Linked DNA regions of Homo sapiens: region 2 is linked to region 1. The links come from fine-mapping of genetic effects on gene expression. A gene starts in region 1. The other region holds a variant in brackets. All regions are shown on one strand. Distances are between the middles of the regions.

Region 1 (5,000 bases):
TGTTGACTTTTCCGAAATTTTATGGAGTGTTAATCTAAAAGAACTGGTCCAAAATTAGTCTTATACTGAGCAGAAGAAGGCAATAGATTCTCTACCAATATTTTTAATTAAAAAATTATTCTGGAAACTAAGAAATGTGAAGGAAAATAATATTAAAGAAATGATAAGTGCCAGACTGGCTTCAGGTATTTTAAGTACATCAATGAGTGCCACATTTAGAAAGTGGCTTGATTGCAGGTACAAAAGCTGAGGATCACGCAAGTATTTTCTCTCACAAATAAAAGAAGACAAAGGCGTCTGGGAATAACTGATGGGAAGACTCAGACCAACTATTCCTGAGGGCCTCCCGCAGGGCTGGGAAAAGCATGTTTGTTTAGTCTAATTAGAGGCGTGGGAGAACCATCATGATGCTGAAATGCTGGGAAGCAGTTGAAGACCTGGGAGTGGGGTGCAAGGTGAGCCGAAGCAAGGAAGCCCACACTTGAAGCTTGGCTCATGGGGACATAAGGGTACCCACATTGTTCAGAGAAGGCAGCTAAGAAGTCAAGTTGTGCTTCTGACTGCCTTCTCAAATTACAGGGCAAGAAACTGAGTCGTGGCCCCACCAAGGCCTTGGGGTGGGGCCTTCAAGTGTTCTTCCCAAGAGTCAGAGTGAACCAGAACCAAGAACCATGTTGAGTTGCCCAGATGTAACCAGGCCTACAGGTACCTGGGAGAAACACGTGTACATTTTCCCCAAAGGGCAGTAATAGCATCCTAGGCTTCAAAACATTCATAGAAACCATTTTTCAAATGCAAAGTCCAACACAGTTAGAAATAACCAGGCATAGGAGCACACAAAATAAGATAAAAAATTAAAAGCAGAGACGGCAGCCAATTGCAATATGTCCACAGGGATTCAAAAGGTTGGAATTCAAAGACACATGCCTTAAAATAAGTATGTTTACTCAGCCCCCCACGAAATAAAACAACGAGAATTTCAGCAGAAATAGGAAACTATAAGGAAATCGTCAAATGGAAATTCTGAAATTGGAAAATGCAGTAATAAAATTGAGTACAACAGAGGATAAAGTTAAATTTAATTAGATATAGTTGTTTAAAAACAAAACAAATAAAAAATAACTGGAGAAGTGGAAGATAACTCAGAAAATCCCCAGAATGAAACAGATTGAAGCAAAAGGGAAGAATGGAAACTCCAGACAATGGTTTAGAGATATAAAGGGCAATGAGGAGGATGATTGAAGTCTTAGGGAAAGAAGAGGGAGCGCATGAGCAGAAGAAAGACTTGGTGAGAAATGTTAGAGCATCTCCCAATGCTGACGAAAGAGCACCAGGAAACAGATTTAAGTTGGCAGATTTTTATAACATTCAACATACATTCTTCACGGGATCCAGCAATCTGACTCCTCAGTATCTTCCCAAGAGAAATGACAGCAGTGTCCACACAAACACCTGTATGCAAATGCATATGGTGACATTATTCATAATCACATAAAACTGGAAATAAATTCAGTGTCTTTCAACTGATGACTGGCTTGTATTAGTGATCCATCACTGTGCAAAATATTACTCCCAAAACTTGGAGGCTTATATAAGAAATGGTTATTATTTCATAGTTTCTGTGGGCCAGGAAGCTGTGTGTGGCTTAGCAGGGTGCCTTTGGTTTAAGGTCCCCCATGAGACAGCAATCAAGCTGTCAGCCAAGACCACAGTCATCTTGAGACTTGAGTGAAGGCTGATCCATTTTCAAGGTCACTCACGTGGCTATTGGCAGGCCACAGAAGGTTCACATCCAAGTCAACTCACATGGGCAGCCTCCCAGCACAGCAGCTCTCCCCACATCCCTGAGCAAGCAATCCAAGAGAGAGCACCCCAGATGGAGGCTGCAGTCTTCACATAACCCAGTCTTGAAAATGACACCCCAGCACTCTGTCACGTTTGATTGAGTCACTAAATCCAGGCCACACTCAATGGGTGGGGAGTCCGTGAGTGCCTGGAGGTGGGCTCACCAGCATCTCACAGGCTGAACTAGCACATGGATGAAGCCTGCAATAAATAAGAGTGATCAACTATAATGAGCATCATAAAAAAAAGGGATGGCTAAAGCATTGTGTTGAGGTTAAAAAAAAAAAATCAAAAGACTAAGTGTGATCCTGCTTATGTAACATTTGGGGAAAAGCAAAGCTGGAGACAGAAAACAGCTGAGTGGTTGCTGGAGGCTGGGCGTAATGGCAGGAGATGAAGTTCAGAAGGACATGTGGTGTTATAGACAACCTGGAGTGCTCATGTCTGCAGATGCACAGATGTGTATGTCTAAAAAAGGTGAATCTCACTGTCTCTAAATTACACCATAATCAATCCAACGTTTGTAAAAATGAAACAGAAACCTTTGCAAAGCCTAAGTAGGATACATAAAACTTTCCTAGGTGTATCATAGTAAAACACCTATAAAATAAAGACCGAGAATTAATTTTAAAAGCAGTTAGAGGTAAAAATATGTACTATCTTCGAAAAGTAGCAACTGAAGTCCAAAGACAATGAAATAACATAGTTAACATGCTCAAATAAAATAACTGCCCCCCAAAAATTCCTGTAATAATGAAAGGGAGTTAAGGATATTTTTAGGAAAAAAAATAAAAATGAAAGGAATTAAACACTGACAGACTCAGAATGCTTAGAGATAAAGGAAAGAATAAAGAATAACTAAAAAGGCAGTAAAATTTGGAGGGGTAAAATAATATTTAATATTATACACTGATAAACCTACCTTGCCAGTTGTAACCTCAAAGGTAACCCCTGAAAGAATATTAGTGGGGTAGATAATATCCAAACTAGTAAAGAGAGAAAAATAAAATCATAAAAAGTCAACTCAAAAGATGCAAAAAGGGGATAAAATAGGAAAAATAGGGCAAGGAGAAAGTTCTGAGACAGTAGATATGAAAACACATGTGAAAATAAACTTTATTTAATTATAATAAACTTTAAAAGGCTTATTTAATGTAAACTTATATGAAAAATGATTAGCAGAATATTTTAAAAACTAAGTTTTCTGAAAACAGTAAAACATAAGGATTCTGAAAGAGTAAATGTAAAGGGATAGAAAAGAAAAAGATACAATGTGCAAATATTAAAAAGCAGCAAAAACAGTGCTCATATATTTGAACGTCAAAAATTACATCTCTAGGCCAGGCGCGGTGGCTCACGCCTGCAATCCCAGCACTTTGGGAGGCCGAGGCAGGCAGATCACCTGAGGTCAGGAGTTCGAGACCAGCCTGGCCAACATGGTGAAACCCCCATCTCTACTAAAAATACAAAAATCAGCTGGGCTTGGTGGTATATGCCTTTAATCCCGGCGACTCGGAAAGCTGAGGTAGGAGAATTGCTTGAACCCAGGAGGCGGAGTTTGCAGTGAGCCCTGATCGCGCCACTGCACTCCAGCCTGGGTGACAGAGCCAGACTTTGTCTAAAAAAATAAGATAAAATAAAATCTCTAAGTAATCAATGTATTCAAGAAGAAATCACAAAATAAATTAAAAAGCAAAATATTTTAACTAATGACAATGCAAATATGACAACAGAACTTTTAGGACATGTCTAATGTCTTTTGTGTATGAGTGGAAGGGGCTCGGGTACAGTGTCGGTATGGTCAATATGTGGCTGTATGGCATCGTGGCCATGGCTGGGCTTTTAGTGTCCACATCAACTGAATAGTATATATTGTCCTGATTAAGTCGTTTCATATGCTTCATTCCATCCCATCCTCCCACCTTGCCACCCTTCTGAGTCTCCAGTGTCTATTATTCCACACTCTGTGCCCAAGTGTACACGTTATTTAGCTCCCACTTATAAGTGAGAACATGTAGCATTTTTCTTTCTGTGTCTTAGTTATTTCACCTAAGATAATGGCCTCCAGTTCCATCCATGTTACTGCAAAAGATCTCTTAAGAAATGGAAATGTATGGCTTCAAACCTTTGCATCACAAGAGAACAAATACGATGAGTGTTAAAAGGGTCTAGAAATTAGAAACAGAACAAAAACTAAATACTATGAAAATGGAAGGAAAGATATGATAGTGATAATAAGAACATAAGTTATTGAAATATAAAACAAATAAAATAATGTGAAGGGATAGAAAGGAAGGAAAGAGAAAGTTGTTTATCTTTTAAAAAATTATCTTTGAAAACAATAAGATTGAAAATTTTCTTGCAAGGGGATAGAGAAATAGAGAAAATTGGCACAAATAACAGATTTTAGATTGAAAAGGGGACATCAATACAGATCTGGCTGAAATTAAAAATAGTAAGAGAATATTACAAACAGTTTTACACCAAGATAAATTTACAAATTTACATAAACAAATACATTCTTAAAAAAAAAAGAACTAACGAAAATGGACAAAAGAAGTAGGAAAGCTAAATAACACCGTAAATGTTAAATTAATGGAATTTGTAATTGAATGCCTTCCTACAAGGAAAATTCCAGAATCAGATGGTTTCTCCACTAAATGTTTCCAAAATTCTAAGGATTAAATAACTCCAATGTCACGTACACGCTTTCAGAGAATAGGAAGGAAGGAGAAAGAAAATAATATTACTCCAGCTTGCATAATTAGCCACTTAATTTATGACAAAATTGGCATGTGAGAGCACTGGGGAAGAATAATTGATTGCTATCCATGTGGAGCAAACAGTGAAACTCGACTCTGCCTAATGCTATACACACAACAATTCCTGATAGATTATAGATCTGTATGTCAAATGTCAAATCATAAAATGGATAGAAGAAACAATAGGAGAGTATCTTTCTTACTTCATAAAAGGAAAGAAGGGCTTGTTAAGCAAGACACAAAAGTTTTAACCATAAAGAAAAAAGAAAAAAAAAAACATAAATAGGGAGAAAATATTTTTAACACATTTACCCAACAAAGGCTAATATTCAACGTTTATTTAAATTAAAAACAAAAGACAGCTGAAAAGAAAATTGGACAGAATATGTGAAT
Region 2 (5,536 bases), 140 kb after region 1:
ACGAAGGAACAGGAGCAGGTGAATTCTGGTGGCTTGTCTATAGTTATTGTCAAGAAACTGAACTAAAGTCATGAGATAATTTAAATAAATCTGGACAGAAGAAGCTATAATTTGGAAAAGAAGTGAGCTCCACCTTGTTTTAAAAGCTGAGCCTTGACCATCTCAGCTCAGGTGAGAGAGACGTGATTCTTGTAGGATCTCTGGCCCCCCGCCTCTGGGGAGCTGGATTGATGGTGAGCTGGTGGCTAGCTCCAGGGAACTGGCAGTGAGTTGTGCAGGTGTTAACATGCTGGTAACAGGCCACGAGGATCACCACAACCCTGCGTTCTCCCCTCTTTTGAAGGTGACATATGTACTTGCCTCTAATAGAGAATGAGAGATTCCTCCAGAGAATATGGGTCATTGGCAACTGGGCTTTGCCTTAGTAAGTGCATGTGCACACATAGGGTAAAAAAGCTCCAAAATCTGTGTTAAGAATGCAACTGTGCACTGGAAATCAGACTCTGGGTTCCAGCAGCAGCTGTCTTGGGACTGCAGGCTCCTGCTGAGCAGCCCCTCTCCTGTGTGACTGGGATTGGTATCATGTGCCTCCCCCAGGAGAGCTCCTGGCATCTGTTCAGAACCTGCTCTGGGAGCCATGAAAGGCTTGCTTGCGATCTGAGCCTCCTATTAGGAGATGACAATACTCGTGGTGCTAGACTCGGAAATCACCATATGTGCCACCATCTTGCAACCATCTGTGGCCAAAAACAATATAATTCTGACCAGACGTAAGGGCCAGACTTCCAGCCAGCTACTCTGTTTTGATCAAATGAACCCTCCTACCAACCTCAGGAAGTCTGCCGACCATTTGTGTTTTGCATAAGGCCACTTTGAGTGAAAGATGGCACTGATCTACCCTGGATTGTTGAAGTAAGTCCCTCAGTCCCCCTGGCCTCAGCAGGGGCTTGGCTTTGAGTCAGCTCTCCTGGGAGTCTTGATTTCTCCTAAGAGTCCCAGACTCCAAGCCTGCACAGGTTTATTGTCTGCTCACATGTGTTTTTGCTTGGATCTAGACAAAGCTCATATTGGGCTTTAGCACTGAAAATCAAAGATGGGTTTCAGGGGATATGAAAGGGAGGTATCAATGGTAAAGAAATTCTCCTGTAAAAAAATAAAACAACTGTATTTCTACATTATAAGTGCTGTATTTGTAAAGACAATGTGGAATCATGTTATCTTTGTGAGTAATCAATATTAGTTTAATAAAGACCTACAGAAATCTAAATTATCTTCTACATAGTCAGTCATCACAGCTACCCTCTTTCATAGAACCATTACTTCCAAAACTATACACACATCTAGAATACATAGTTTTATCATTTTGCTACAAACCATTAAAGTTTTATGAGACACTGAACTGTCATTGAATAGTAAGAGTTTTTAAATGCATTTGTAGAGCTAAGATTTAAGCAAGGTTAGATATACTACTGTGACAAATATTTATAAAACAGAAATATTTTTATAATAAAGCTTTAAAGACATCTTGAATATATCTGTTTCTTTTCCTTTTGGTCTAGTTAGGTGGGAAAAATTACAGTCCTTGGCATCTTAATTAAAATAATATTATAATGTTAGCAAAACAAAACAATCATTCAACATATTCATGTGGTAATTACATTAAAAAAAGATTACTCTCCATTATTCTTCCTGATTGTACTAAGCCATCTGTGCTTGTAAAAATAATAATAGACAATGAATATCATATGCCATATGTACTATGCTGTTTAATACTAATTAAGCAATAATCCTAAAGCAATCACTTGTTAACAGTGATCATTGTTTAAAGATAATTATTTTGTAATAAATGATAATCAATTATTTATAATATTAACAATAGTTTTATTAAGTTTTTTACCTTCAAAAATTGCTGGTGGCCATCGCCTGTCTCATCAGCCACGTCGTAAATTAGTAATTCTATTCTGTTAATGACAGGTTTTCCATGAATCAAAATTCTGGTTATGGTCTACTATATTTGTAATATGTGTGTATTGTATTCTCAAAAATAAGACTGCTATAAATAGCTCATCTACCTTGTTATTAAAAATAAATGGCTTTAGTAAAACTTGTAGTGAATGTGAAATGTGGAGGGATCAATATCAAGAAGCACAACATAAACGTGAAAATAGCAGAGTGTTATGGCCCCAGTAAGAATATGTTGATAGAAAGCCACATAATTGAATTTAATTTGGGGAAGGTGGGAAAACTAAACTATAACTGCCTATTCCAGTTATTTATTTTCCAAATATATTACTACAGATTTTAGCTTTAGACAACCTACTAAGTCATTTCGAGAAATGACGTATAATCTTAAAGTGGGGCATCCCTTTTAACAGAGGGGTGACTAACTAAACAATGAAAAAATTTAGGATTCTTATGATTCAAAGCAAGTATTTTGTTTTACTTTTAATATGGCAAAAATAATGTGTTGGAGTATGCTTTGGGAATTTCATATTTAAGGAACAAACCACTTGGTACAGTCTCTTTACTCTGAGTTGCTGTCCTGACAATAAAATGCCCAGTAGAACACGTTCAACCATCTCTAGATCAGTGTTTCTCAACTAGGAGTGATGTTGTCCACTGGGGGGGGTTTGGGAGCATCTGGGGACATTTTTGGTTGTCATAGATGGGGAGGGTGCTCATCGCATCCAGCAGGTAGAGTCCAGGGATGCTGCCCAACACCTGCTAGGCACAGCGCAGCCCACCACAAGGAATCATTTGCCTAAGATGTCAATAACACCGAGGTGGAGAAAGCCTCATTTAGATTACTTGTTTTGCAGTTCAATAATTCACAAAGGAATTAAAGCATTTCAACTTTGAAAGTTTCAAAGCAGAATGGAAATACCTAACTTCCAGGAACGCTGTCCCTCTTTCTTTCCACCAGAGGAAAGAAGAAGCAACCCAGGGACAAAAATTCTCCCTTCAAGATAGGATATTAAACTGCAAGTAGGAAAGTAAGACCGAAATCTCCTCTGGCTATTTTATACAAAAAAAAAAAAAAACTTTATTAAAGAAAATTAGGTAGCTCAAGAGATCATCACT[A/T]GGGCTGCCTTAAGAGGACAGCGGCTAAGCTTCTTCCAATGATGCTGTGAGCCACATCACAGAAACTCCATTTCTGCAGCTGCTGCCAATGCCAGCACATCTGGTAGCTGGGACTGCAGCCTCTATCATCACCCAGAGAAGGAGAGACCCCTGCAGAGGCTTCACGCTTTCTTTGAGTATTGCAAAACCAAGAGCAGTTATCTCTTATGGAGGACCGAGGGCATGTAGACACCACGGCTTCAAGGGGACAGCAGAAGAACTCGTGTACCTTCTGGAGACAGGATTCGTGATACAAGAGCCTATCTGAGTGTGGTGCTGTTCAAAGGATGACTTGCGGCCACAGACAGTGGTGCTTTCTACTGATCTGGGGGCCACACAGCGGAAACAAAAGAAATCTGATCGATTTGCTTTCGGAAATAATAGAGCTGGAATGATTGCATCTCAGCACTTCAGGGTTGTAAAGGATAGAAGATATTATTTATTCTGAATATGATTCCTCTTCACCTCCAGCCTCTGCTTCCATCGATGTTCAGTTTATCTCTCTTATTTTTTCTCTTTCTTCCTTTGGTCCACCAATAAATACCTATTGAATGATTACTTTCTGCAAGCCTGTTCTAAAGGACATTGCAGGAAGTAAAAGAGGCATCATCCATGCATGTGTTTTTCAGATCTGGGGAGAGAAATTTTAAAAAATACGCAAAGTTTTTAAAGTATCTCCAGCTCTTCAAACTTGGGAACTAAACACATACACGTACACGTTTGAATAAATCTCTTGTTATCCAAATTCTTGTTACTTGCTGTCCAAAATTCCAGCACCAAGCAAATTCGGATAATGTATTATCGCCTTCTACTCAAACTCGGTATCCCAACTCAGGAATCAAATAGAACTGAGATGTGAAGGAAACTCACGGTTTTTCAGATGGTTTTCAGATGGTGATAAATGCCATAGAGAAAAGTGAAACGATGTGGCAGGGGGTGATAGTGATAGTCATGGCAGGGAGGGGAGAGCTGCAGCTGTAAATAGTGTGCATGGCCACAGTGAAAAGGTGATACTAGGGAGGAGTTCCAAGCAGAGAGAGAAGCAGGTGCAATCATTTAGGAGAGGGAGACTTCTGCTGGGCTTGAAGCACTGCAAGGCAGCCAGGAAGTTTAGGACAAGAGGAGACAGAAGATATCAGAGAAGTAGCTGAGCTCAGATCAGGAAAGCTTTGAAGACCTTTGTAGGAATTTTGGTTTCAGAGACGAATGAAGACTCATTGAAGGGTTTTGAGCAAAGAAATGGTGAAAGTGTGCGGACAAGTATTTAGAGGGATCACTGTGTTGAAAAGGTACTGTAGGAACATGAGAATTAATGCTGGGAGCCAGTTAGAAGGCGAGTGCAATAATCTCTGTGTGCCCTGATGGTGGCCGAGACCAGCCAATGGAATTGGTAAAGTCAGATTCTGAATACGTTTTGAAGACAGAGCCACAACAACTTCCTGGTGGATTAGAAAGATGATGTGACAAAAAAAAAAGTCATAGATGACTCCAAGAATTATTGTTAGAGAAACTAGAAAGATGATAGAAAACACCAAAGCAAGGAAAGGACATGTGTGCATTTGTGTGCCTGTGCCTGTGTGTGTGTGTGTGTGTGTGTGCTCATGTTAAGAGGCAGTGGTTCTGTTTTGCACATGCTGCACTGGAGGTACTTCTTAGACGTTCAAGTGTAAATATTGAAGGAAATATGCATCTGTGGTTTAGGGGGAGTTTTGAACTGAAGATAGGCATTTGGGAGTCCTCAGAATAGGGGTGTTATTTAAAGGAGTGCCTGAAGTCACCAGGGGAATTCATGAGGATAAAGAAGGGAACCAGGCCCAGAATCCTGGCATGCTCCAGTGCTGGGAAGTTGGTAGTGATGTGGAGGAATCATCGAAGGAGACCAAGATGCAGCAACTGAGAAGCAGAAGAAAACACAGAAAGTCTTTTTGGTTTTTCATGGATTTACAAATTAAATATGTGAGGCACTGCTGAAAACTCAAAGAGAGGAAGGCTTCGAATTGCTCATTGTGAGCAGCAACATGGAAGCCATCAGCACCGGTCCAGAGTGGCTTCAGCAGAAGGGAGAGTGAGAGCGGAAGAAAGTGTGAGACAGGATGGAGGGGAATGGGAGATAACAGAAGAGAAAGTGTAGGGAGCTTTGCCGTCGAGGGAGAAGAGAAATGAGCAAGCAGTCGGAGCAATGGGATGCAGAAAATAACTGCACATTTAGATGGTGATAAGAATGATTCCGCGGAGAACGAGAGCGGACGATGGAGAAGAACAAACTTCTAATTAGCCATAGGAAGGTCCTATGGGATGAACTGGGTTTTACCCTTAATAGGTCACTTGCCACCTTTGACTAAGCCCTTAAGCATCTTGAAAAGTCTGAGTCTCCCTGCAATGCAAGTTCTCTCCAGCTCTGGTCTTGATCTTCTGT

What was found. PIP is the estimated chance that this variant, and not a neighbour inherited with it, causes the effect.
Region 2: its variant is the best candidate, but not a certain one, in a credible set for the expression of MYO16-AS1 in whole blood (INTERVAL, PIP 0.59).

What each region holds. Positions count from the first base shown.
Region 1 is chr13:109,165,259-109,170,258 of GRCh38, forward strand. MYO16-AS1 (MYO16 antisense RNA 1) reads right to left here and starts at 2,045. Exons shown (of 3, transcript NR_047700.1): 1 at 1,761-2,045; 2 at 1,378-1,452. All of the region lies in intron 33 of MYO16 (myosin XVI), which reads left to right.
Region 2 is chr13:109,301,227-109,306,762 of GRCh38, forward strand. No RefSeq gene overlaps it. Among named protein-coding and RNA genes, the nearest start is that of LINC00370, 22 kb to the left of the region's middle. The variant A/T (reference allele first, on the strand shown) is at 3,082.